4 separate regions of the Homo sapiens genome follow, and all the other regions are reported to be linked to region 4. The links are microRNA targets in miRTarBase. Many come from high-throughput screens and were not tested one by one. Region 4 holds a microRNA gene; each other region holds the end of a gene's coding sequence.

Region 1 (7,102 bases), not on the chromosome of region 4:
CCCCCACTCAATGGAGGGGAAGGGGATGGTAAACCAAGCTTGAGCTGGATTTCAGTGTAGGGTCACAATGATGAATGGTCCAAAACATTCGCGGTTTCCACCAGAATTCAAGGTGTTGGCAACTACCTTCCTTGGATGTCTGAGTGACCCAAGATGTTAAGGAAGAATAAGGCCCTATTTTAATGTTGGTAGTGGCCCTCTTGTAAGAGTTTGCGCCAGACTTTTAGTATCAGATTGCGTCAGGGAGAAAGAAGGGTTATTAACATTAAAAGAACTTGCAGTAATTCCTTTTTCTCTTCCTCAGACTGCTGAGAAGGAAGAATTTGAACATCAACAGAAAGAGCTGGAGAAAGTTTGCAACCCCATCATCACCAAGCTGTACCAGAGTGCAGGAGGCATGCCAGGAGGAATGCCTGGGGGATTTCCTGGTGGTGGAGCTCCTCCCTCTGGTGGTGCTTCCTCAGGGCCCACCATTGAAGAGGTTGATTAAGCCAACCAAGTGTAGATGTAGCATTGTTCCACACATTTAAAACATTTGAAGGACCTAAATTCGTAGCAAATTCTGTGGCAGTTTTAAAAAGTTAAGCTGCTATAGTAAGTTACTGGGCATTCTCAATACTTGAATATGGAACATATGCACAGGGGAAGGAAATAACATTGCACTTTATAAACACTGTATTGTAAGTGGAAAATGCAATGTCTTAAATAAAACTATTTAAAATTGGCACCATACAATTGCTTTGAGTCTTTAAATAATCTCCCAGGCCAGCTGGTGGGAGAAGTAGGCTTAGGTGATTATGTGACTCTTACTTTCTCCTTCCTCTTAAGCTTGAGTTAACAAGGGCTGGGTGGCAAGTTGCCCTTCAGAGCATTGTGGATGGTACATTTTGGAATTCAGAGCTTTGAGAAGGGGAGCATAAGAAATTGGATCTGGATCAAACTAACCTTAGTCCTTAGGCTGGAGAGGCAGAAAGCTGACTTAATGGTGTTTTCTAAACTTATTCTGTGTGTAAGCCTGCCTAGGAGCAGAGGCTTTCCTGGAGGGTTGTGCTAGATGAGTAAGAATTTAGAGATCAGAATCAAATAATGGGCAGTGAATATTAAGCTACATGGCAGAGGTATCTGAATGTCAATCCCTTATATGAGCCACTGCCCTGTGGGCTTCCATTTCTTCCTGAGTTAAGATTATTCAGAAGGTCGGGGATGGAGCTAAGCTGCCACCTGGTTAATTAAGGTCCCAACAGTGAGTTGTGATAGCCTAGGGGAGCAGGCTGTTACCTGTCATTACGTACGTGACAGATTTCAGTGGACTAGCTAATCTTAGCATATGCCAAAAAGCTAATTCATGGAGGAGCTGCAGTTTTTCTCTTTGGTACTGAAGGGCTACTAATGTCTGGGTATCTCAGTGGGAATTTGTAGCACGATTTGATATACTTCTCATTCCATATTTTCTCCAAGGTTACAAAAAATGACAAGTAGTACACACTTCTTTTTTTGAAGGGTTTTACTCTTGTTGCCCAGGCTGTAGTGCAATAGCACGATCTCATTGCAATGGTGCAAACCCTGTCTCCTGGGTTCAAGGGATTCTCCTGCCTCAGCCTCCCAAGTAGCTGGGATTACAGCCATGCGCCACCATTCCTGGCTAATTTGTATTTTTTAGTAGAGATGAGGTTTCTCCATGTTGGTCAGGCTGATCTCCCTACCTCAGGTGGTGCACCCGCCTCGGCCTCCCAAAATGCTGGGATTACAGGTGTGAGTCACTGCACCTGACAGCAATGCACGTTTTTGGCATGTTTCTTTTGTTTGGGTGAGAATCTTACCTGGGCTTCAGTTTTCCATAGGGGTGTGTTATCACTTGTGCAGGCTGGACTGGAACTCCTGGGTCCAAGTGGTCACCCAGCCTTAGTTCCAAGTAGCTGGCTCTACAGGTGTATGTCACTGCACATGGCCATACCATGTATTTGAGATGCTACAAACTTTTTTGATGCCTTGACTCAACGAGACTAAAGGGTAAATATACTTTGATCTCGTTTCATGTGGAATCTTAAAAATATGTGGAAGGTTTTCAGTGGTAGCTGTTACTGTAAATTTTTGAACTTCAGGTTAATGTTAGCTTAATGTTCATTAGCAAAACACAAAATTAGAGGAGTAAATATGGCAATGTTTCCCCTATACAGATAATAACTTGTTGGACATGTGTAATGTATAGCAAGGAATTGGGGCCTGGGAAGGTGGGAATTAATATTTGCTAGGTTTTCTCAGTTATTCGTATTATACTTTCATCTATTTATAAACCAGAATGTGTTTATAGATGATACTGAGGCTCAGGTGGACACTTAATGTCATCACATAGTCTAATCTGGGGAAATGGATTTTTTTTTTTTTTTGAGAGCCTCCAGCCTCCCTTACCTAGGCTGGAGTGCAGTGGTGCGATCTCACTGCAGACATTGCCTCCCACTTTTGCATCCTCCCACCTTTGCATTCTCCCACCTGACTAGCTGGGACACCATGCCCAGCTAATTTTCATATTTTCTATAGAGCGGGAGTTTTGCCATGTTGCCAGGCTGGTCTTGAATTTTTGACCTCAAAATGGTTTGCCCCACCTTGACCTCCCAAAGTGCCGAGATTACAGGTGTGAGCCACTGTGCCTGGCCTATTGTTTGTAATTAGGGTTCTGCTGTGGGCTAGTAGTTTAAAAAACCAGTAAAGATGTTTAAACCCTATAAATGTCTAATTAGCTGTTAGGTAAGGCTTAGAGAAAGAGAAGGTAACCATAGGGACAGCAGTGTCTACCACTTCCCATTGAATTTCGAGTTAATGGCAATTGCTTCTCCCCTTATTTGATTCTCCAAATAACCTTACAATGGAGGGATGTTTGGATGCTCTGGCTGTGCATGCACAAATCTACACGGTGGCAAAATTTGCTTTTGCAAGTTACTGTAAGGAGGTTTGAGTTTATAAGAGGAAACTCCATGACCTAGATGGTTCTGTCCCTGCTGCACAGGGCGCTACTGGATTGGGAAGACAGGCCAAAAAACTTAATCTCTAGGTCCAGTTTAGGAGTTACATGCAGGTTTCTGGTGAACTTGGCAATATGGTTATATTCTAAAATGTATTTTTATTACTATAGCTCTCTCAGTTTCTACTTGACCTTATTAGACATTTTTCTTTTTTTTTTTTTTTTTTGGAGATGGGAGTCTTGCTCTGTTTCCCAGGCTGGAGTGCAGTGGTGTGATCTCAGCTTGCTGCAGCCTCCACCTCCCGGGCTCAAGCAATTCTGCCTAAGTCTCCTGAGTAGCTGGGACTACAGGTGCACGCTGCCACACCCAGCTAATGTTTTGTGTTTTAGTAGAGATGGGGTTTCATCGTGTACCGAGGCTCAGTATCCTGAGCTCAGGCAATCTGCCCGCCTCCCAAAGTGCTGGGATTACAAGCATGAGCCACCACGCCTGGCCCTTAATAGACTTAAACTTCTAAGGCAATAGTATAAAGCCACAATAATAAAATTATCCAACAATATTACTACAATATTTGTTACATATAAAATTAAAAAATGACAATGCCCGTGAAAAATCCTTTGTCCAAACTATATTGAGTACTTACAATGTTCCAGGCTTTAGGCTTTCAAAGGAAAAGTGGTCTTTTGGATTCCATTAAGGTGGGATGAAGTGGTTGCAGGACATAAATAGAAACGCTGAGAGTTTCCGTATCTGTGGGTCTACGTACTGATGTAGTCATCTTTGTCCACTAGATGGCAGTAGCTATTTATAAAACTATCAGAGTACCCCGGGGGAAGCTGCTGTAGCATTGTCTGTGCTGTTTGTTGTGCTTTCTAGCTGGAAGCACAGCAAATAATGAAGAAGGAAAAGGAAGTCAGCTCTAAATATCCACAATTACCTTCCAGGCAAAGCATTCTTTTTCTCCTTTTTTTTTTTTTTTTTTTGAGATGGAATTTCGCTCTTGTTGCCCAGGCTGGAGTGCGATGATGAGATCTCAGCTCACTGCAACCTCCACCTCCCGGGCTCAAGCAATTCTCCTGCCTCAGCTTCCCGAGTAGCTGGGATTACAGCCATGCGCCACCATGCCCGGCTAATTTTGTGGTTTTGGTAGAGACAGGGTTTCTCCATGTTGGTCAGGCTGGTCTCGAGCTCCCGAGCTCGGGTGATCCACCCGCTTCAGCCTCCCAAAGTGCTGGGATTACAGGTGTGAGCCACTGCGCCCGGCCCAGCATTCTCAACTGAGCAAGTGCCCTGCTTAGGTGGGAGTAATGGCTTGAGTTGAGATCTCAGGATACTTGGGCAATGGGTATGGAGGGATGGGTAATACAGACAGGTTTAGAATACAGAGGGTGAGGTGAAGAAAAAGCTCAGAGAATATAGCCTTTCCGGAGCCACACTGGCTAGTTTAAGTCCCCATATTATTTCCCTCATCCCCCTGAACTGCTTCTGGGTTTCTCAACACACTTTGGTGAAATGCTTAAATTCCTCAGGAAGCTCACCCAAGAATGGAGAAGCACCTGTGTGCACACCTGTGTTCCCAGTGTCTGGCACATAAGCAACATATATTTGTCAAGTGAATGAATAAAAAGGGGTGGGTGGAGCAGGTACCCAAGAGGGTAGAATGTGCTCCCTTTGTGCTTTATAATAGTCTGCTCATGATCATCTCTCTTGGAAGAGTGGGAGGGTGGTTGCTGGATGAGCTCAGACTCACTCTCTGTTCCTTGCAGGGTGGGGAGCCAACATTAGAGTTGCATGTGATGAGAAGAAAGTGATCAAACCTGGAGCAGATTTGGGTAAAGGAAAGTTGGCAATAACAGAATTGCCAAGATCTTGACCGGAATAAAGGTCTTTACATTGCCCCTGAGATCTGGGCACTATGTGGAGTCAGTGGGATGAACAGAGACAGTGTAGCTAGTCTGCAGTATAAGACTGTCAGGGCCTGCCTGGAGCAATGGGGCCTGTCCTAGAACACTGGGCCACAGCACAGAACATTCAGAGCATGCAGCCAGCTCAATTTTTTATTTATTTTATTTTATTATTATTATTATTTAGACAGGGTCTTGCTCTGTCACTCAAGCTGGGATGCAGTTTCATGATCACAGCTCACTGCAGCCTCCGCCTCCTGGGCTCAAGTGATCCTCTTACTGAGTAACTGGAACCACAAGCGCATGCCACCACGGCCAGCTAATTTTGTACTTTTTTGTGTAGAGATGGGGTTTTGCCATGTTGCCAAGATAAAGACACCATCAAGAAAGTGAAAGGCAAACCCATAAAACTAGATAAAATATAAATCATATATCTGATAAGGGACTGTTATCCCGAATATATGAAAAACACTCATAACTCAAAAAGACAACCCATTTTTTAAAATGGGCAAAATGTCTGAATAGACACTTCTTCAATGAAGATAAACAAATAGCTAATAAGCACATGAAAAGATGCTCAACATTAGCCACCAGTGAAATGCAAGTTATCACAGAGATAGAATTTCTCGTACATTAGGAATTTCTCGTATAATCAAGCTGGCAAGGATGTAGAGAACTTAGGACCCTCATACACTGTTGGTGGTATAGCCATTTTGGAAAACACTGATGGGGCTGGGCGCTGTGGCTCACACCTGTAATCCCAGCACTTTGAGAGGCCGAGGAGGAGGGCGGATCACCTGCGGTCGGGAGTTCAAGACCAGCCTGGGCAACGTGGTGAAACCCCATCTCTACTAAAAATACAAAAATTAGCCGGATATGGTGGTGTGTGCCTGTAATCCCAGCTACTCCGGAGGCTGAAGCAAAAGAATCGCTTGAACCCGGGAAGCAGAGGTTGCAGTGAGCTGAGATCACACCACTGCACTCCAGCCTGGGCAACAGAGTGAGACTTTGTCTCAAATAAAAAAAAAAAAAGGAATTGAGTACTGATATGTGGTACAACATAGATTAGCCTTAAAAACATTATGGTAAGTGAAAGAACCCAGTCATAAAAAAACACATATGATTCTATTGATATGAAATGTGCAGAATAGGAAATCTTTTAAGACAAAAAAGATTGATGGTTGCATAGGCTGAGGGGAAAAACGGGGAGAAATACAGAGTGATAAAGGGTATGGGATATTTGTTTTGGGGTGATCAGATTGTTCTAAATTAATTGTGATGATTGCACAATTCTGTAAACTAAAAATATTGAATTACACACTTTAGATGGGTGAATTGTATGATCTCAATAAATACATATATTAACTGAAAAAGAAAGAGGCGTAGGGCTGGTTTCCCCTGCAAGGAGAAAAGAGAAAGCGAGACAGAGACAGAGACAAAGGCCTACCATTGTAATTGGGAACATGGATGAGGAAGAACAATATTGCTCAGCTGAAGGCTGAGGTGGGTGGATTGCTTGAGGCCAGGAATTCAAGAGCAGCCTGGGCAACATGGCAAAATCTCATCTCTACTAAAACACAAAAATTAGCTGGGCATGGTGGCGTATGCCTGTGGTCCTAGCTGCTTGGGAGGCTGAGATGGGAGGATGGCTTGAACCTGGGAGGCAGAGGTTGCAGTGAGCTGAGATGGTGCCACTGCACTCCATCCTGGGCGATGGAGTGAGACTCTGTCCGCCCCCCCACTCCACAAAAAAGAAGGAAAAAGAAAAAAAAAATAAGATTCTTACTCTCAAAGAATGGAATAATCATGGCTGTGCTGGGTTTACTGGGCTTTTTTTTTTTTGGTAGTTTTATACTTTTATTTTATAATCAACAGTTAGCGCTCATCCATGTTGACGGTCTATACATTTTTGAAAGTGGTAACAGGTACATAGGTACAGCGCTGTTTTTGGTGAATCTTCATCCTCATGTTTTCTGTGCACATGGATATGGATATAGTATGGGACATTCCTTATTCCTTTGGCCCAGACAGTTTTGTTAAGCCTGATATCAATGTGTACATCTGGAGTCCGCATCTCCATGGCCAATTTCCGGATCTCTCTGAGTGCCCAAGGGGCACCCTTTTTGAAGCCCACTTCACGGGTACGCATGTAAATGTTGATGGTGGAGTCTCAGATGATCACCTCCGCTGATGGCAGAATGGTCCTTCTCACCGCCCTTCTCTGCAAGAGCCATTCTG
Region 2 (7,121 bases), not on the chromosome of region 4:
GAGACAGGGCTGAGTTCCTCAAGTTCGAAGAAAAATCAAAAGTCAGATCAAAAAGGACTGCACAGAGGCCTTCCTTGTGAGCCGCCTCTGAACTAGCTGCACTAGGACAGGTGCCAAATGTGCATCGTGTGGGTTTTGCCGTCTGTTTGGCAGGCGGCTGCTTTTCCCTGCTGCTTGGTGGCTTCTCTGCCCTCGCTCTTGAGTGCACCTTCGGTTCCTCCCACAGTTGGGCAAATGAGCCAAACTACCTTCATGGGGTACTGACCGATCTCTCCTTGACTTAGGCTCAAGCTGGGCCATGCCAGAGTGGAGCCAGTGAACACTCAGCTCCAGAAGGGCCCAGGCCACTGAGTCCGTGGTAATTCTGCAAGGCTGGGTCAGAGCCAGGGTGTGGTGCCACTAGGGTTGTCTCCGTAGCCTATTTCTATAGCTGGCCACTGGGGTTGGCAGTGAACAGTAATCACACTTGTTTTGTGAATTGAACAGGAAGATCCCAGTGTCTGAGTGAACTAACAGTCCTGCTTTCAGCCACCATTTGCACAAGACACCCAGCACTGAAAGTCCCGCTGCCAGGAGCAAGGGATCCTTTGGAAGCACCCGCCCTTTGTGCCTTGTTGGGGGAAACCGGTGACGCAGAAGTGAGTGTGGATACACCAGAGTTTGCATTGGAAGGAATGAGTGTCACGTGGGGAGGGAAGGGGCCAGTGGACCTTTTGTAAGCTTTCCACTCAATAAAATGAACCTGTATGGCAAATACTTGAAATGGAACTCACTCCTTCCACTTTCCCCCTTTCTTCTGTCCCAGGAAATAGATCATCTTTTGAAAAGACTCTTGTCTAGGAAAAGTTGTGTCCTTTTCCTAATTTAACGTGTTCTTTCTTAATGAAGTTTTAATTTATTTTTGTTGAGATTTTGCTAGATGGCTTTTGCATCCCCTGTAGATGGTGAGTGTTGGCGGTGATGTCCATCTCGGCGTTCGGAGGCCCCACGGTCCCGAGGCTGGGCCGGGGCCCCCCAGGGTGGCTGTGCTGCTGCCTGTAGGAGGGTGCGGGTTGTGCTGTCATCCTCGGGTTTGCACGCCCTTTTTTAGGAGCCTGTGGACATCTGTGGTTTTGTACTTTGGGGCTTCAGGGGAGGTGTTTAACTTTCTAGTGATTGATGATTGTCAGGTTTTGAAATACCAAAGCTTTTTTGTTCTGTTTTTAAATAAATATCTTTCAAACTTTCACGACCGGTTTGTGTGTGGTTGAAACCTGGAGACATGCACCACGTCTGCCCTCAGCACTAGATCTGTCAGAAGCAGGACACCCACCCGGCCCTGCTGTCACAATGCTATTCCTTTCTGGTATGTTCTACCTCTCTTCAAAGGAGTCTGCCCAGAAGATGTGTTGTTTGCCACCTTTCTGCTCGCCAGGGGGTTGCTGAGTGGCCCTGCTGAGTGGGTTGCTTCTGGCATTACCCTAGCTCCTTCCCTGCTAAGATGCCCTCTCCCCCACCTGCCCTAAAGAGCCAGGGTTCTCCTGCCCTGGGTTTTGCTGGCTATAGGACGTCAGCAAGACAAACCCTGAGTGGTTCTTCTCCAGGTTGTCTGCTGAAGCCACCATCAGATGCCTCCCCTCTGTGGGGAGGAGAAGGGTCCACTCTGGGGACCAAAAAGGGGCCGAGCCGGGCATGGCAGTCCACCTGCGGGGCTGTCCTCAGCGTCTTGGCGTTTAGACTTTCTCTGCGTTCCCAGACAGCATTTTAAGCAGCATGACTCACCGGGAAGCCTGGTCTGCCTGCAAAGCAGCCAAATGTCTGGCCCACAGCCGATGGTTATGAGAGTAAACTCAAGCTCTGCTTTTAGTGGCACTGGTCACCCACTTACTTCTGTCCATGCAGCACCTTCTCCCCTGGCTCATGCAGAGCTCTGACATGTGATCTTCCAGCCGTGGGCCACGGGCTGGTTCACCTATTACAGAGTGGGAACCTCCTGGGGTGCAATTGGTGTCATTTACAGTGTGACATTAAACGGAAAGCTGTTAGACCACAACAACTGCAGCTCCCATTCCTTCTTGAACTTGGAACTGGGCATGTTGTAGGCTCCCATAAATGTAAAACAAGACCGGGCGTGGTGGCTCACGCCTGTAATCCCAACACTTTGGGAGGCTGAGGTGAGCAGATCACCAGAGGGCGGGAGTTCAAGACCAGCCTGACCAAGATGGAGAAACCCCATCTCCACTAAAAATACAAAATTATCCAGGCGTGGTGGTGCATGCCTGTAATCCCAGCTACTCGGGAGGGTGAGGCAGGAGAATCACTTGAACCTGGAAGGCGGAGGTTGTGGTGAGCCGAGATCGCGCCATTGCACTCCAGCCTGGGCAACAAGAGCGAAACTCCATCTCAAAAAAACAAACCTTTGTATGTGGTGCCTGAGAAATACCTATCGAATGATTAGAATGTCAATAAACTGAGGTTTGTAAAGTACAGCTCTCATTAAGTGCTCACCATACGTGTTAGATATTTCACATCAACATGGCCTTTTGGGATGAAGAGGTTGCTGGGGGTTAAGATCCCAGTTTGAGAGATGTGGAACCTGGACCTCACACAGTGAATCATTTGTCCAAGGCCACGCGACCATGGAGTGACTGGAGTGCAAACTCTGCCTCGATGCCGGTGCAGGCTTGCTTGGATCCCCACACTGCCATTTCTCCCCATGGTGTGCGTCTGATGGCTTCTGTGGCATGGCTCAGTGTCCACAGGGCTTCCAGCTGGCCACCATGGTAGAGAGGAGATGCTGGTGGTCCATGGTGGAGCGGGCCAAGCAGTAACCCTGGTGGGTCCCATCTGCACGGTCCAGTGGAGGCTGTGGCTGCACAGAGAGCCTTTTTCTTTTTTTTCTTTTTGAGACAGGGTCTCGCTGTCACCCAGGCTGGAGTGAAGTGGCACGATCTCGGCTCACTGCAAGCTCCACCTCCCAGGTTCATGCCATTCGCCTGCCTCAGCCTCCTGAGTAGCTGGGACTGCAGGCGCCCGCCACCACGCCTGGCTAATTTTCTGTATTTTTAGTAGAGACGGGGTTTCACCATGTTAGCCAGGATGGTCTTGATCTCCTGACCTCGTGATCTGCCCGCCTCGGCCTCCCAAAGTGCTGGGATTACAGGAGTGAGCCACCGCGCCCGGCCACAGAGAGCCTTTTTCAAATTGCTTTTTCAGGGCCTGAAATCTGGTGTGGAAAATTTAATTGCATACTATCTGAAGCTTCCCAACAGCCGAGACATTGGTTTGGAAATGTGTTCACTCCCTGAAAATCCACCTGCACCTCATACCTCTGTCCCATCTCACATCCTCTCAACCACCTCTTTTTTTTTTTTTTTTTTTTTTTTTTTTTTTTGAGACGGGGTCTCATTCTGTTGTCCAGGCTGGAGGGCCGTATGGCAGTCTCAGCTCACTGCAACCTCCTCCTCCCAGGTTCAAGCGATTCTCCTGCTTCACTCAGCCTCCTGAGCAGCTGGGATTACAGGCGTGTGCCACCACACCTGGCTAATTTTTGTATTTTTGGAAGAGACGGGGTTTTACCATGTTGGCCAGGCTGGTCTTGAACTCCTGACCTCAGGTGATCCACCCACCTCTGCCTCCCAAAGTGCTGGGATTACAGACTTGAGCCATCGCACCCGGCCTCTCTCAGCCACCTTGACTCCTGCCATTGTGGCGACAGCCAGCTCTGCATGGGTCTGAGTGTCCTGGCAGCACCCAACATCAGCCTCTGTCATCTTTAGGAAGCTGCGAGGCACTCAGGCATATGTAGCCTTGAAGCATGTGAATGACAACACCGTTTGGGGCCACCCTTCACCCGTGGGACATGGAGCCAGTAGACACAAGCTCTCCTCTTCTGTCACTGGCGTGGACAATTCGGAGGCACATTTTATTCGGCTCCTCAGAAGGTGCTACGGTTTGGATATGGTTTGTTGACATTTGGCCCTCAGTGTGGCAGTGTTGGGAGGTGGGGCTTTGTGGGAGGTGTTTGGGTCACGAGAGTGGATCCCTCATGGATGGCTTGGTGCCTTCTCTCAGGAGTGAGTGAGTTCTTCCTCTTGTGGGAATGGATTAGTTCCCGAGAGAGCAGGTTGTTATAAAACCAGGAAGCCCCTTGGGTTTTGCTTCTTTACACGTGTCTGCTTCCCCTTCAACCTTCTCCACCATGCTACGAGGCCAGGCAGATGCTGGCACCATGCCCTCGAACTTCTCAGCATGCAGAGCCGTAAGGTAAATAAACCTCTTTTCTTGACTGGGCATGGTGGTTCACGCCTGTAATCCCAGCACTTTGGGAGGCCAAGGCGGGTGGATCACGAGGTCAGGAGATCGAGACCACCCTGGCCAACATGGTGAAACCCTGTCTCTACTAAAAATACAAAAATTGGCCGGGCGTGGTAGCTCATGCCTGTAATCCCAGTACTTTGGGAGGCCAAGGCGGGCGGATCATGAGGTCAGGAGATCGAGACCATCCTGGCTAACACAGTGAAACCACATCTCTACTAAAAATACAAAAAAATTAGCCGGGCATGGTGGTGGGCACCTGTAGTCCCAGCTACTCGGGAGGCTGAGGCAGGAGAATGGCGTGAACCCGGGAGGCGGAGCTTGCAGTGAGCCAAGATTGCGCCACTGCACTCCAGCCTGGGCAACAGAGCAAGACTCCGTCTCAAAACAAAACAAAACAAAGCAAAAAAAACACACAAACATTAGCTGAGTATGGTGGCACATGCCCGTATCCCAGCTACACAGGAGACTGAGGCAGAAGAATCGCTTGAACCAAGGAGTCAAAGGTTGCAGTGAGCCAAGATCATGCCACTGCACTCCAGCCTGGCGACAGAGCGACACTCCGCCTCAAAAAAAAAAAAAAAAAAAAAACCTCTTTTCTTTATAAATTACCCAGCCCCAGGTATTCTGTTATAGCAACATGACATGGACTGAAACAGAAGGTCCCCACAAGATCAAGCCCCGGGTAGGAGACCCAGGCTAAGGCACTAACCAAGAGGCCTGTGGCTCCTCTGGACGATTTTTCCAGGAGGAAGTGGGATTCTCCGTGGCCACTGACATGGGCTGAATTGTGTCCCCTCCTCAAATTTCTACGTTGAAATTTTTTTTTTTTTTTTTTTTTTGAGAACTGTGGAGTGCACCCAGGCTGGAGTGCAGTGACGTGAACATGGCTCACCACAGCCTCAACCTCCTGGGCCCAGGCAATCCTCCTATCTCGGCTCCCCAAGTAGCTGGGACTGCAGGTGTGCACTACCACACCTGGCCAGTTTTTGTATTTTTTGTAGAGATGGGGCTTTGCCATGTTGCCCAGGCTGGTTTCAAGCTCCTGAGCTCAAGTATTCCACCTGCCTCAGCCTCCCAGAGTGCTGGGATGACACGTGTGAGCCATCATACCAGGCCCCTGTGTTGATGTCCTAACTTCCAATGTGATAGGATTAGGAGGTGGGGCTTTTAGGGGGGTTCTTAGGTCATGAGGGTAGAGTCCTCATGAATGGGATTAGGGCCCTTCTAAGGGGGCCCCACAGAGCTGCCTCACCCTCTTTCCGCCATATGAGAATGCAATGAGAAGACAGCAGTCTGCAACCGGAAAGAGGGGCCCCACTAGAACCCAACCATGCTGGCACTGTGATTTCGAACTTCAGTCTCTGGAACTGGGAGAAATCAATTTCTGCTGTTTTGAAGCTGCCCGGTCTACGGTATATTGTTAGAGCAGCCGGAACACACCAATACGGGCATATCCTTCCAGCGGAGAAATGGAACTCTTCTCTGGTGATAACAAACCAAGAATACAGAGAGTCATAGGACCGTGGATGCTTCTTTTTTTTTTTTTTAGACAAGGTCTCGCTCTGTCGCCCAGGCTGGAGTGCAGTGGTGCAATCACAGCTCACTGCGGCCTCAGCCTTATGGGCTCAAGCAACCCTCCCACCTCAGCCTCCTGAGTAGCTGGGACTACTCAGCCTGGCTAATTTTTTTTGTATATCTTGTAGAGACGGGGTTTCACCATGTTGCCCAGGCTGGTCTCAAACTCCTGAGCTCAATCGATCCGCCCACCTCAGCCTCCTAAACTGCTGGGATTATAGGCGTGAGCCACCGTGCCTGGCCAAATAAATCTTAGGGTATTTCTGGTGCAGGAGTAACCAGATTCTGACTGAGCACAGTGGCTCACACCTGTAATCCCAGCACTTTGGGAGGCTGAGACAGGAGGATCTCTTGAGCCCAAGACTTCGAGACCAGCCTGAGTGATATAGTGAGACCTTGTCTCTACAGAAAATTTTAAAAGTTAGCTGAGCATGGTGGTGGCGTGCACCTGTGATTCCAGTTACTTGGGAGGCTAAGGTGGGAGGATCGCTTGAGCCCAGGAGGTGGAGGTTGCAGTGAGCCAAGATCATACCACTGTACTCCAGCCTATGTGACAGAGTAAGATCCTATATCAAAACAAAACAAAAACAAACAAAAAAACCCACAAAACCAAAAACTGGTTAAACAAAAGGAAGAGTATTGGTTCACATAACAGTGTAGCTTAGTAGGAGCTTCAGGAACGGTTTGATCCAGGACTCAAGTGATTTAGGGATGCATTAGTATCTCTTAGCTCTGTTTCCTGTAGATTGGCTTCCATCCTCAGACTGGCTACCCTTATGGTAACAAAAATGGCCACAGTTATCACAAGCTTGATGCCCTCCTAGCATTAAACCCACTGGAATCCAAGTCCTGGTGTTCCTACCCAAAAAGCTGAGGCTCACCTCTGCACAGCCCAGCCCTAAGTCAATCACTGTGGCCAGGGTGAAAGGGATATGCTAATTAGGATAGGCTGGCCAGGCCGTCTCAGAGCTGGGGTAGGGTCAACCTCCAACCACTGAACAGACACTAATCAGAGAGGAGCAGCTTCCCAGAGGAAATTGTGGGTACTCTTGTCACGGATGAGGGCGAATAGATGTTGGCAGCGCAGTACAGACCTCCAGTATTCCTGCAAGGTGAGTGTCAGTCCTGTTTTACAGATGAGGAAAGTGAGGCTCCCAGATGATAAGTCATTAAGCCAAAGTCACATAATTTGTGGAGTCAGGGATGCGTTCCCAAGCCTGTCCAGCTCCAAAACTAGATGCTCCCAC
Region 3 (7,121 bases), not on the chromosome of region 4:
CAGGGTTTGTACTGAGGCTGGGACAAACCAGGAGCAAGGTAGACATGTCCCCCAGTCCAGCCCTGTGCAGCGGCCCTGGGCCATTCCTATTTGGGAGGAGAGTGTGTGAGAACTAAATGAGATAATGCAAGTATTTAGCAGACTCAACAGAAATGGGCAGTGGTTTCCAAAACCACTGCATTCTGGGGGCCCCACAGGGGTTATTAATGATTCAACAAGGGCTCTCTGACCAAATGAGTTTGGGAAACACTGTTCCCTGCAGGACTTCTCAGAGCCTTTTCTTTTCTTTTCTTTTTTTGAGACGGAGTCTCACTCTGTTGCCCAGACTGGTGTGCAGTGGCACGATCTTGGCTGACTGCAACCTCTGCCTGCTGAGTTCCAGTGATTCTCCCGCCTCAGCCTCCCAAGTAGCTGAGATTACAGGCACACGCCCCCATGCCTGGCTAATTTTTTGTATTTTCAGTAGAGACGGGGTTTCACCATGTTGGCCAAGCTGGTCTTGAACTCCTGACCTCAGGTGATCCGCCTCCCTTGGCCTCCCAAAGTGCTGGGATTACAAGTGTGAGCCACCTCACCCGGCCCCTCTCAGAGCCTTTTCTACCTATATGTGATGTGAATCTCCAATGAGAATCTAGGAGGCAGAGTTTGACTACAGACCAGTGTCACACCTGTGTTTCTGGGAACACTGTTACAGCCACCTGGCTAAGTGCTCAGGAGTCAGACCTGTGTATGAATCCAGGCTGTGACCTCAGTAGCTGCATGACCCTGGGCAAGTTACTTCACCTGTGTGCTTCAGTTGCCTCCCCTGTTGGGAGAACTAAATAATCCCAGCCCTGTGGGAGGCCGAGGTGGGAGGATTGCAGGAGGCCACATTTGACCAGCATGGGCAATATAGTGAGACCCCCATCTCTACAAAAAAAATTTATTTAATAAAATAAAAATGAAAAATGAGCGTTTAGGACAACACGGCACATGGGAAACGCCTAGCAAGTAGGAGTCACTCCGAGCGTGCCGACTATGCCCACCTCGGCCCCATCACACAGGGTGCAGCTCTAGCCCGAGGGGCAGCTCCCTGAGCCCCTCTCTCCGCCTGGCAGGAATGCTTCACGCCATTCGTGAACGGCAGCTTCTTCGAGCACGACGGGCAGCCCTACTGTGAGGTGCACTACCACGAGCGGCGCGGCTCGCTGTGTTCTGGCTGCCAGAAGCCCATCACCGGCCGCTGCATCACCGCCATGGCCAAGAAGTTCCACCCCGAGCACTTCGTCTGTGCCTTCTGCCTCAAGCAGCTCAACAAGGGCACCTTCAAGGAGCAGAACGACAAGCCTTACTGTCAGAACTGCTTCCTCAAGCTCTTCTGCTAGGTGCCCTGCCCCTGTCTCTGCCCCCCTTCCCCAGCCAGCATCCCCAACTGCGACTGTGACCTAGAGACTTCACCCGGGGGTGAAGGGGTAAACCCGACTGAAACTGGAACCCTTGTCCTCCGCTGGTGCGGGATGGACAGAGGGCCGTGAGGGGTCCCCCTGCTTGTCTTCACCCCTGCCAGAGCCTCTGGGCCCCCTCCTCCCTCCTGTAGCTCTCCCTAGGCTGCCCACTCTCCATCCTCCCCAGGGGTAGAGGCTGGGGGCTCCACCCCAGCCCATGTACGTCCCCACGAACTGGCCTGGCCAGCACCCCACACTGGAGCCATCTCTTCCTCATATTTCAGCAGTGCAGCCGGGGGGCAGGGAAGGGCAGGCAGGGTCTGTTGGGGTCTCTTTTTATCCTTATTCCTCCCCCGACCTAATTGTCTTTGTTCTGTGATTATTGGGGGACACCCGGCTCCCTCCAGACAATGCCAGCATAAATCCATCCATCCAAAGGCAGAGAACCAAAGGGGCCATGGAAGGTTCTCTGTGCTCCTCCTACCCTTCCAGTGCCCTAGGCCTGGCGACTGCCCCTGCCTTTTAGACCCGCCCTCCCCTTTTATACCTGCTCTTGTTCTACTGAGAAAAGCCTCTCCAGCAATAATGTTTTCTAGTCACTTCCTCCGTCTCCGGGACGGCGTGCCTGGACACTGTACCGACTTTGATAGATTTCTACACTGAGGTTTGAATTCATATCGCCTGAGTTGCTTTTACTTCTCTATACAAAATGATTTTGAAGAGATTTTAAAGACGTTCCCTTTTGTATTCTCTTCCTCATCCACCGCCACTGGGCCTGTCACTGATGGTGGCTCTGGTGTGAAGTTTGCTTTGTACTGAGGGTTGGGGTGGGGAAGCAATTTGTATTTTATTGTTTCTTAGCACAAGCAGGTGAACTGGGAGCAGCTCTGTGACTCCCCCTCTTTCACTTCATAGCTCACCAGGACTGTTTTATAAACTGCTGTATTTGGAAACCCCTTCTTTACTTCCCAGGCCAGCAAGCTCTTCACTGAAACTGGTTGAAGGGTGTTGCACCCTTTTGGGCCTAGAATTCTGAACTTTATCTGTTCTGTTTCTGTGGGAGGAGAAGGGGAAGTATGTTTTGGGGGGCTGCTTCCTGTCTGAGTAAGCCCTCAGGAGCCTCTGCTCCCCTGTGAACCCACTGAACCTTCTGAGCCCCCACTGCTTCTATGGGGCTCTCTCTTCTGCCTTCTCAGGAAAGCTGGTGTCTGATTTTGGCCATCAGGACTCTGACGTCTCTTTGGTCTTGTTGATTTCCTCTGGGCATATCCCTTCCCCAGATCTGCTCCTCCCCTTTCACAGGTGGGATCGGCACTCAGGGGGTCTGGAAAGAAGGTCATAAGGGAGCATGATAGGATTTGGGGCAGAGGGACAGGCTCCTCTGGGGAAACCCCCCAGAGCTCTTTACCAAGGATGAAAGAGGAGCCAGGCCTTGGGCTCCTGATGAGGAGAAAGGGGCCCCACCGGGGTCTAATGGTGACAGTCCAAACCACTCCACTGGCCTCCTGGCAGAAGCCGAGTGTGCTGGGGTCTCCGAAGAGGGTCCCTCCTTTTTGGGGGAAGGTCAGCCCAGCCCCTCCAAAGGTCTGATGTCTCCACTTTCACCCGCAGGCCTTACCGCTCTGTTTATAGTGACCCACCCTAGATCTTCCCCAAGAGGGACTGGGGTTTCTGGGGTCCATTCTCTGAGTCAGTGGTTATTTGAAAATTTGATTTTGATTTTATTTTTTCTCTGTAAACTTCCAAGCTGGCTTTTCCCATTTCAATTCCTGTGATTTATGCCAATAAAGTTTGCCCATGATTTTCACCTGTGCTAGTGCTATTTCTTGGTGGTCTGAACCTCATGGTCCCAGCAGAGACCAAACCCACCCCAGATGCAGCTGGATCACCAGATGGAGGGTAAATTGTGGATGTTTCCTTTCTTGAGGTCAAAATCCCTGGGGCTGGGGTCCGTGGTCCTTGCCTGTGGTCACAGGTCCTCCCCGTGGGCTTTGCTCCTGCCTGGGCAGTTGGTGAGGACAGGCTGGGGAGCAGCGGGATGGGGCCCTGTGGGGCAGGGCCTGCCCAGGGTGTGATCACCTGGGTTTACCAAGGGCATCCTCACTCACGGGCTTGTGGGTGGCTTTCCACTCATTTAGAAGTAGGGAAAGAGGCTCTAGGACAAGAACCTACATGTACAAGGCAATCTGAGTGAGGGCAGAGCCATGATGCGGACCCAGGGCTTGCCTCTGCCTGTGTTCCTGCACAGAACCAGACGCGGCCGTGCCTGAGCCCACACAACGTGGGTTAGCCCCTTCCCTGCCGAAGGCAGTTACTTACAGTTGAGGATGGGTCTCTACTGCCTCCTCGTCGTCATGTCCGGATTTGCGTGCTTCCTCTTTGCTCCGGTCAGATCCAGAGCTCCAGTCCTAGGCCCTAGAGCAGGGATGTCCAATTTTTTTTTTTTTTTTGAGATAGAGTCTCACTCTGCCCAGGCTGGAGTACAGTGGCATGATCTCGGTTCACTGCAACCTCCACCTCCCAGGTTCAAGGGATCCTCCTGCCTCAGCCTCCTGAGTAGCTAGGATTACAGGCAGCTGCCACCACACCCGGCTAATTTTTGTATTTTTAGTAGAGCCAGGGTTTCACCATGTTGGCCAGGCTGGTCTCAAACTCCTGATCTCAAGTGATCTGCCTTGGCTCCCAAAGTGCTGGAATTACAGGCGTAAGCCACCACTCCTGGCTTTTTTTTTTTTTTTTGAGATGGAGTCTCACTCTGTCATCCAAGCCAGAGTGTAGTGGCACGATCTCGGTTCACTGCAGCCTCTACCTCCTGGGTTCAAGCAATTATCATGCCTCAGCCTCCCAAGTAGCTGGGATTACAGGTGCCCACCACCACACCCGGGTAATTTTTGTATTTTTAGTAGAGCCAGGGTTTTACCATGTTGGCCAGGCTGGTCTCAAACTGCTGATCCCAAGTGATCTGCCTGCCTCGACCTCCCAAAGTGCTGGGATTACAGGCATGGGCCACTGCGCCCAGCTGGGTGTCCAATCTTTTGGCTTCCTTGGGGCCATGTTGGAAAAAGAAGAATTGCCTTGGGCCACACATAAAATACACTAATGATAGCTGATGAACTAGAAAAAAAATAATAAAATCACAAATCTCATAATGTTTTAAGAAAGTTTACAAATTTGCCCTGTAATTCCAGCACTTTGGGAGGCCGAGACGGGCAGATCATGAGGTCAGGAGATCGAGACCATCCTGGCTAACACGGTGAAACCCCGTTTCTACTAAAAATACAAAAAATTAGCCAGGCATGGTGGCGGGCGCCTGTAATCCCAGCTACTCGGGAGGCTGAGGCAGGAGGATGGCATGAACCCGGGAGGTGGAGCTTGTAGTGAGCCAAGATCACGCCACTGCACTCCAGCCTGGGCGAGAGAGCGAGACTCCGTCTCAAAAAAAAAAAAAAAAAAAAAAAGAAAGTTTACAAATTTGCATTAGGCCAAATTCAAAACTATCCTGGGCCGCATGTGGCCCACAGGCCATGGATTGGACAAGCTTGTCCTAGAGCTTCCTGGGCAGTTTTGTTTAACCTTGAGCTGTGTCTTCACAGCTTCCCTGTTGTTTGGAACGGTTCTCCAAAAGCAGCATGTTGAATTCTAGTTTAAACTCTTCCCATGCTATAGTGAGCTCAGAAGTGAAAATTACCTTCAACGCTCACCCAAAGAGAATGATGGGGCCAGGCTCTGTGGCTCATGCCTGTAATCCTAGCATTTTGGGAGGCCAAGGTGGGAGGATCATTTGAGCCCAGGAGTTCAAGAGAATAACTTGGTTTATTCTTCCAGCCCATGTTGGATTTATTTTATTTCTAGAAATGGGTATGGTATATTTCCTTTTTTTTCTTTTTTTTTTTTTTTTTTGAGATGGCATCTCACTCTGTCACCCAGGTTGGAGTGCAGTGGCGCGATCATGGCTCACTGCAACCTCTGCCCCCCAGGTTCAAGCGATTCTCCTGCCTCAGCCTCCTGAGTAGCTGGGATTACAGGCACCCGCCACCACGCCAGGCTAATTTTTATACTTTTAGTAGAGACGGGGTTTCTCCATGTTGGCCAGGCTGGTCTCGAACTCCTGATCTCAAATGATCCACCCTCCTCGACCTCCCAAAGTGCTGGGATTACAGGCGTGAGCCACCATGCCCGGCCAGGTATGGTATATTTCACTGTAATGTGCTTTTCGCTTTGCTTTGTGGATATTTTCCCATGTCAATAAATATAGATCTGTACCATTTTCTAATGGCTTCATGGTATTCCGTTATATTGATGTACTACAATTAGAGATGATATTTATATCATCAGAGCCAGGAGGTCCTTGGAAATGTACCTTGTGCATATGTATATACTTGGAAAAGTGCGTTCAGAGGGAGGCTGACTCAGGGTTTGGAATGGACTGTATAGCACAGTGAGGCCCAGGGGCTTTGAACTTCCTCCTAGATTTCAGTTCTGAAGCCTTCACTTACTGGCTGAGAGACTTGGGCAAATTATTTAACCTTCCTGTGAGTATTCTCATCGATAAAATGGGAGTACTGACAGTACTGTATCTCCTCAGAGGATTGTTGCAAAGATTAGCTTCAGTAATGTGCACAGAGTACTTAGGACAATACGAAGTGTGCAGTAATACATTGCCATTAAAAAGAGATCTCGGGTGTCCGCGGGTTGCCGAATGGAGCTGAGCATCTTGATGGAACCAGGGATCTCAGGGTGAAGACTGAAGCCCTAGGCTATGGCGGAAGTTGGGTGCCTGAAGTACAAGTGGAAATATGCCAACTGAACATTGGACCACCACAGCCTGCCCCCTGGCTCAGCGCCCAGTGCCAACAGAACACCTTTCAGGATCCACAGCAAGGCAGACAACGGAATCCACACAGGCTTCCATTCTCAAAAGGCCATCAAAACATAACTGCCGGCCGGCCACGGTGGCTCATGCCTGTAACCCCAGAACTTTGGGAGGCCGAGGCCGACAGATCACTTGAGCTCAGGAGTCCAAGACTAGCCTGGCGAACATGGTGAAACCCTGTCTCTACTAAAAATACAAAAAGTTAGCTGGGTGTGGTGGTGGGTGCCGGTAATCCCAGCTACTCTGGAGGCTGAGGCAGAAGAATTGCTTGAACCCAGGAGGCGGAGGTTGCAGTGAACTGAGATTGCACCATTGCACTCCAGCCTGGGCGACAGAGCGAGGCTCCATCTCAAAAAAAATAAAATAAAATAAAATAAAAATTAACTGCTGACGAGACAATTTATATTTCCTTCCCCTCACTACACTCCCTGAATGTTCTGGATCAGTGTGTCTCACACCTTTGGATCTTACAAGCTAGTTGGGAAAGTTCTATGGAGAAGGCAAAGATTTTGAAGGCACAGGAGACTATCATAGACACTCACAATGATCATAGATAGTAGTATCATAGTACCATAGATACTCCCAATGATCATAGATAGTAGTATCATAGTACCATAGATACTCTCAATGATCATAGATAGTAGTAGCATAGTATCATAGATACTCACAATGACATCTCCCTAAAGGATTCAAAAGCTTTGCATCAACCAAAGGAAAAGCACCAGTGAGAGTCAAGATACAGTTCCAGACAGATGCTACCTCTGATTGTAAAGGTGTCCAGGTCTTGTGCTTATGATGTGCTCACATCAGTGCCGGAAACGATG
Region 4 (7,121 bases):
ACGGGTCTGGTGTGTAGTTGATGTTGTTGTTCTAAACTGAGCAGCAACAGTAACAACAAACAACGAAATCCTACTTCCCACTCTCTTCTTCCTTTCTATTCAAAAACAACCATCACTATCACAATAGCCCAGTAGACAAAATAAAAGCATGTCTATATTTTTGGTATATTACTGTATGTCTTAACTGTAGTTTCTCTGCCACACATTAACAGAGTTATTTATCCCTGATGTTTTTCAAAGATCACCTTTGTGCTTGTCTGCATAGCTGTTCTAATAGTGTTACTATTGTCTCTTCTTCATTATCTCCTTTTATTTGAGTTCTTTTTTTTCACGTATGCAAAGAGGCTCTTTTTCTAGGCTCTTTGCACACATTCACCATTGCACTAGGACAGATGGGTGTTTTTCTATATAATGCCTTTTAAAGTGAGAAGACAGCAAGAATAGATTTTGAACAATATTTTACCAGCATTATTGAAAAATTAGCTACTGTATATTCTATATACACACACAGCAGCTGCATAAAATGCAAATTCTATTCATGTCTGATCTCTTCTGCATTTATATGGTGACTATCGCTGTAGCACCTAAGCACTTTATGTTATTTCCTCTTATTATTATTTACCACCTGATCATTCCAGAGTGCTTTTTACAATCAGAGAATTTCATTAACAACCCATTCCCTCGCTCTTTGTTTTTCAGCACCCTTGCATGTAAAAGTATCAAGCATCTTGGTAGCTATATCAGATAAATTACAGTAAAAAGATAGAGGGCTTCCGACAGGAGGGCAGGGGAAAAAACACCCTAAAGCATCTCCTAAAATTTGGTTTGTGTTTTATGGTATCCAAATAATGTTACAGAAGTCTGTAATTTTAGTGAAAACCAAACCACTAGATAAGCGCTTTTATTTATCATGGTTTCCACCATTGCAATAATCGAAAGTGTGAGGTGAGGAAGAGGAATACTGTCTGCACTTCATAGATAGAGAGGACTGGGCAATTGCACTTTCTTCTCACTGTGGAAAGCTTGTGATTCTTATTGACTCTTGAGCTGCCTTTAGCCCAGAAGTATAGAAGTCAATCTGTTTTAAAATCCAAAAAGCTACTGTTATATTTTTTAAGCTAAGAGGATAGAAACATGTTTATTAAAAGGTTCATTGTGATTATAGATGAAAGTGCGTGGTTGGTACCTTAACAGTTTGATTGAATAAAAATCAAGTTCACACTGGGGTTTCCTTCTCAGCTCTACTCCTTGCTTTCTCTTTGACTCCAAGCTAATTGCATAACCTCTGGTTGACTTGTGCCTCGTCTACACATTCAAAGTGAAATTCAGAAATGAGGTTATTATCTAACTAATGTAGGCTGTAACATTATTTCTCTAAAATATCTCTGTGAGAGAATTTTGAAATTTCTGATTTCAGTAGATAGTAAAAAAAATAACAATTTTATGGACCATCTCCTTTTATTCTTAGACAACAACCCCATGGAGGTGGATACATCAGAGTCAGCTGGAGGTGGTCAGAATTATTTGCAATGTTTGGTAAGACACAGATTACTGCCCCTTCACCAAGTTTCTGATTCAGAGTCTAGGGTAGGGACTGATAATTTCACTTCTGATATGTTTCCACATGATGCTGATGGGGACCACATTTTTTGGATCACTGCCCTAAGGATGATATGGCTTAAGTACATATAGAAAAGGAAATCAAGGCTCAAGTCATGGCAGTAAATTTGTGTCTATACTCTGTCACTTTACTTTTGGCCTCAAGTCATTGCAGTAAAGTGGCAGAGTATAGACACAAATTTAGGCCTTCTTCCTACTACAGACATTTTCTTTTCACTTCTACTAGAGATATTTTCACTTTACTTTTATGTTTTGAATGACTGTCAGTCGTCTTGAGATCCTAAGTGAAAAAGCATTGTAAAGAGTGGTAATTGGATCTTTTCCCCTTAGATCCAGTGGCTACCCTATTGCATTTGTGAAAGGAGAGGAGGAAGCCATTCCAAATTTTAGTGATTAGCTTTGGTATGAACAGCTTTTAAGGCCAGCTTTATACTTCCCTTTGGGGATGAGAGTAATAAACATAGTCTTCTTTGTATTCATTCATCATAGCCTGTACATAGATATGAACAGGTTTCTCTTTGATGGACTTATGACCATGTTCTGCTGTGACAATGCTTTGTAAAAAAATTGTCACTTGTATATTACTTCTCCAAAAATCATAATAAAAAAAAGATGTCAAAGTGAACATGATGGGGCAAGGGAAAAACCACTGCAGACAGACTGAGGACACTTGAGTCTTGTACTACCTCACATATTGGCACAGATATACTGACCTCCATGGGAGACACCCAACAATTCTTCTTTACCCAAGCTATATGTTACAGTCACCCAGAAAGGCTTTGAAACAAACACCCACATCAGGGCCCAGGTACAAGAAATTCTGATTTAATTGTTCTGGGGTAGGGTCTGAGTATCAGTAGGTTTTAAAAGCTTGCCAGGTGCTTCTAATGTGCAATCAGGGTTAAAAAACCACTGGCCTAGTGTTTAAGGGCCTGGGTTTTGAAATCAGACAGATCTGAGTTCATATCTTGGCTCTTTCACTTAGTTACTATGCAACCTTGGACAAGTTATTTAATCTCTGTCAGCTTTAGTTTTCTCGTATGTAAAATGAAAATAATAGCACTTGTCTTGTAGGAGATCTATGAAAATTAAATTAAATGATACATTTAAATGTTTGACATCGTACCTGGCTTGTGGTATGGATCTACTACACATCAGCTGCTGTTGCTATTATAATGCACCTCAGTTTCCTTATCTGTAAAGCAAAAGAGGGGGCACTTTAATTTATGAAATGGAGGACAAATATCTCAGGATTTCGTATAGATACTTGTCTGTCACCATATCCACAGTATCCTACCCGGCTTCATTTTTGCCGTTCTTACTTCCTACACATATTTATTATTGTTAGGTACAATCATTGACAGGCTCAACCTTTATTATGATATTTTACCAATAAATACTTCTCTGCCCTCCCCCTTCCCACCAAGATTAAAAACTTGAAACATACAACAAATCCACTTGTCATATGGGGTAATGTAGGTATGATGGGTGGTTGACCTATGGGTTTAAGAAATAAAAGGCAGAGTTTTGTAAACATGTCTAAAAACTAACATGCCCCTATTCTTGATTGCTATTTTTTTCTGCCATCACTCACTCTAAGAGTTCAGTTGTTGGTAGCTTTCATCCTAGAAAAGGAAAATTGTTCATACTCTACTTCTTAAAGATTATTGCAATTTGTTAATTCCCTTCATTTTCCCATTTTCCCTGATTTCCTTCTGTATGTCTTTTTTTCTTTTCTTTTTTTTTTTTTTTACAGTCTTGCTCTGTCACCCAGGCTGGAGTGCAGTGGGGCAATCTTGGCTTGCTGCAACCTCCGCCTCCAAGGTTCAAGCAGTTCTCTGCCTCAGCCTCCAGAGTAGCTGGGATTACAGGTGCCCACCACCATGCCCAGCTAATTTTTTTTTTTTTTGTATTTTCAGTAGAGACGGGGTTTCCCCATCTTGGCCAGGCTGGTCTTGAACTCCTGACCTCATGATCCACCTGCCTCAGCCTCTCGAAATGCTGGGATTACAGGCGTGAGCCACCGCACCGGCCTCTTCTGTATGTCGTAGAGAAGCCTTAGTACACAATGAGTAGGTAACAAATTTTTAAAGCAATAATGATTTCATAAGCCTATTTGCTTATCTCCACCAGTGTTTAATAGGTTATACTTTTCATATATTTTAATATCTCTGATTTTAAAAATTAGACTTTCTAAAAGTCTCCTTGTATCACTCTTAACATAGAAATTATGTTTTTGGGTGGACAGAAAGAAATTATTTGACTGTCCAATAAAAGTACAGATGGTTCCATTTTTCTTGACTCATCTCACAGCACACATTAGTCAGGTCACATGCCTATTTGGGAATTTTTGTAGTACTAGGTCACTTGCCCAGCTTTGGGGCACATAAAAGAATATTTTCCTGGCTTTTAAGTTTGTGGATCTTACACTGTGCCTGGCATGGAGATAGGAAGGACATTTTTTTCCATTAAGCTTTTTCACTGTGTTTTGACAGGAAAAGTTGAAACAGAGTCCCTACTGAGATTTTAACATGTTCCATGGTGGTAACCGTAGGAAATAGGGAAACAGGAAATTTTTGGACAGAAGGAAGCCAAGGAGTCCATCTCAGCCTGTCCTCACCTCAAAGATACCAGTTGGACTCCATAATATTATTTTTATCTCCATGTTTATCTAAAGTTTCGTATTTCTATAGTTTTCTTTCTGATAGCAGGGAAACATTGCTGCCAATTATCATGAAAAAGATTGCTCTCTAAACAGTACTCAGTTCCTTCTTCTGGACAAATCAATGGAAATATTCATTCAGATATTAATAAAGCAGAATTATGGGAGTTTTCATTTGGAAAAATGTATTTTAGTGTTTAAAGAGATTCTCAAAAGATATCATGAGAAAATCCATGTAAACTCCAGTGATAGAGAAAGGTACTTGTTTCACACAAAAATATATAAACACAGAATAATGACATTTTTTGTTCATTAAATTCAAGGTGCTTAAAGTTGCCCATATGCACACACATACATGTATACCTTCCATTTACTCTACTTCTCCTCTACCACCCACTGTCCCAACCTTTGGGAACCAAAATACTGAAGTATAAATCAACTCTCATTTCTGAAAGATCTATAATGCCATTTAAGTGAAAGTCCTTAACCAACATATATTGTTATTTTTCCCTAAAAACTTAATTATGGACATTTTGATGCATGTGTTTGTTTGTGTGCATTTTTCGTACCCACAGGAAACATTTTTCAAACAATCTGGTCGATGGATCTCTATTGAAAATTTACCATTCATTAGCATCATACCTATGCTAATAGTTTCTATTGTCTTTCATTATTATGAATGAGATCCTAGACACACCATTTTCCATCATTTTATTTAAATAGTGAAATACAGTTAACCAAATAGCAGTCATGGCTATTAGCAACTTTTTGATATACATTTGGCATGGCAACAGTTATATTTTATTTCTCATGTCTATATTAATACCAAACCTTAAAATGGATTATGAAAATACAAAATAAGCTGTTAAAAAAGAAAACTGCTCTTTCCAGATCAGAAACAGTACCTCACAGGACTGGAATTAACATCATTATCATTGCCATTTTAAACGTAATCACCTCAGATTACATAATCTTTTACTAACATGTTTGTAAAATTAGGCTTTTCCATAGTCCAGCTTTGAAAGATAAACACCATGTGTACATAAGCATAGGTAAAATATCTCATAGATACAGAGCCCATAAAATGGGCATATTCTCATAAAGGCAGGAAAAGGTTTGCTCAAGGAGCAAGCTGATAAGCACAGTGGTGGAATGTCAGAATGCCTAGGCTCTGTAGTTCAGCCTCTACCACTGAATGAGTTTACCCTAAAGGATTTAACTTCACTGTATATCAGTTCCTACATCTGACTCAATGTCAACTTAAACACCCCCAACATTTTAATAACAAAATAATTAAGATCTAAAATTGTTTTGAAGTGTTCAATATTATATACAGATACAGCCTTCATAATGCTCAAGCTTAAAATAGGAATTGGGATCAAATTGTTAGAAAAAGTTCTCTTGTTCCAAATGTTGGAGACTGACTAAGTGATGTCACAGCCTCAAAGTTTTGCACAGGTTGACCACAAAGGCAGAGCCACAGAGGAGGAGCTGGCTTAAACAGGGCCCTGTGATGGTGGACTATGTTTTTTAAACTAATAGAAGAAATGGGAGACACTGAAATCTGTGAGGAAGCATGTAACATGATCACGTTTGTTATGTCTCTTGAATTATCTAAGGTTTGACACAAAGGGTGGATTCAAAGGGCCTGACAATTGGAAGCTCTGGTATGATAGAAAGGTTTTGCCTTAAGACTGTAGTTCTCAAACTGAATTGCACCTCAGGAACTGGCTTAAAATTCAGATTCTAGGGCCATATCCCTAGAGGTTCTGATTCCACGGTAGTTCTTGGGTGAGCCTGTGATTTTTCATTATAGCAGCACCTCTTAAAACCACCCAGGTATGGCCCATTCTCTGCTCAGCATTAGTTCTTTCCACTTCAATACGTTGGCACGATGGCCAGGCATGATGGCTCACACCTGTAATCCCAACACTTTGGGAGGCCAAGGCGGGAGGATCACCTGAGCCCAGGATCGCTGATGCCCTTGAGATCAAACTGTGAATTTTTTGTCATAACTAGTCAATAGTCTAGCATCCAGCTTATGTGGTTTCTGGTTATGGACAGTACTGAAAAGATTATTTAATGTTCTATAAAGTCCTACAGACAGAACATTTGATTTTTTCAATGGAAATTCTGTATCTTTGAAACGTTCTCTGTTTATTCCTATTACGTTTGCCTGTTTTAGTTTTTAGGAAAGAATACAAATACATCTGTTTGGTCAGAATTTTTACTTAATTGACACTATAGGATTTATCGGAATAGGGAGTCTTTTACAAATTTTGATATTGTTTTGTCCTGTTTTTTATGCATGTGCCCAGATGTCTTCACAAAACTAAAATGAATTTTTAAAAAATGAACAGTCTATTTAATGCACTTACCACATGTTGTTATATGAGAAGTGTGACATTTGACCTAACCTCTCTAAAACCCTTGAATCTATAAGGGTAAGCAAGAAGCATCCCCATTACTAAGAAATTTTTGTCATATGAAAGAAAATCTATCTTATTTCACATATTCAATTCCCTTGTCATTTTACATTATAAATAAATAACAAACCAATTTGGCACATGCCCACCGATTAAAAATAAAAGTTGTCAGAGAGGAGAAAGACAAAAATATGAATTATTAATTATAATATTAAGCAGCACAAAAAGCCTAACATGAAATGATATCACTTAAAAAGATTTTATCAAAATAAAAATTGGGCAATGATATAGTGCTTATTGTACAATTCAATTGTTATTTTAAATGATAAATATATTTACCATATCTAGTATATTTATATCAAATTTGATGAAAAGATATTTTAATCATAGCAAATAAAGAAGTTATTTAGAGA

Evidence for each region. The annotated mature microRNA hsa-miR-4796-3p reads UAAAGUGGCAGAGUAUAGACAC and lies in region 4 at 1,775-1,796, shown strand. An mRNA with a match to its seed (bases 2 to 7 or 8) in the 3' UTR can be bound and repressed. Matches are read on the target gene's strand: a 7mer-m8 pairs with bases 2 to 8, a 7mer-A1 pairs with bases 2 to 7 and ends in A, and an 8mer does both.
Region 1: the mRNA of HSPA8 is a reported target of hsa-miR-4796-3p. Seed matches in the 3' UTR shown: 7mer-A1 at 661-667.
Region 2: the mRNA of KIAA2013 is a reported target of hsa-miR-4796-3p. Seed matches in the 3' UTR shown: 7mer-m8 at 779-785.
Region 3: the mRNA of PXN is a reported target of hsa-miR-4796-3p. Seed matches in the 3' UTR shown: 7mer-m8 at 3,020-3,026.

The regions. Positions count from the first base shown.
Region 1 is chr11:123,051,122-123,058,223 of GRCh38, reverse strand. It overlaps HSPA8 (heat shock protein family A (Hsp70) member 8), which reads left to right. Exons shown (of 9, transcript NM_006597.6): 9 at 305-735. The coding sequence ends at 490. It overlaps SNORD14E (small nucleolar RNA, C/D box 14E), which reads left to right and starts at 68; the gene lies at 68-147. It also overlaps the pseudogene RPL31P47.
Region 2 is chr1:11,913,698-11,920,818 of GRCh38, reverse strand. It overlaps KIAA2013, which reads left to right. Exons shown (of 3, transcript NM_138346.3): 3 at 487-1,228. The coding sequence ends at 504. Among named protein-coding and RNA genes, the nearest start is that of RNU5E-1, 9.1 kb to the right of the region's middle. RefSeq lists a silencer at 3,701-3,856 and an enhancer at 5,730-5,789.
Region 3 is chr12:120,206,557-120,213,677 of GRCh38, reverse strand. It overlaps PXN (paxillin), which reads left to right. Exons shown (of 15, transcript NM_001385981.1): 15 at 1,098-3,231. The coding sequence ends at 1,364. It overlaps PXN-AS1 (PXN antisense RNA 1), which reads right to left. Exons shown (of 4, transcript NR_038924.1): 2 at 7,057-7,121; 3 at 3,744-3,839; 4 at 850-1,303. Among named protein-coding and RNA genes, the nearest start is that of PXN-AS1, 8.8 kb to the right of the region's middle.
Region 4 is chr3:114,738,127-114,745,247 of GRCh38, reverse strand. MIR4796 (microRNA 4796) reads left to right here and starts at 1,723; the gene lies at 1,723-1,803. The region is part of intron 5 of ZBTB20 (zinc finger and BTB domain containing 20); the gene reads left to right.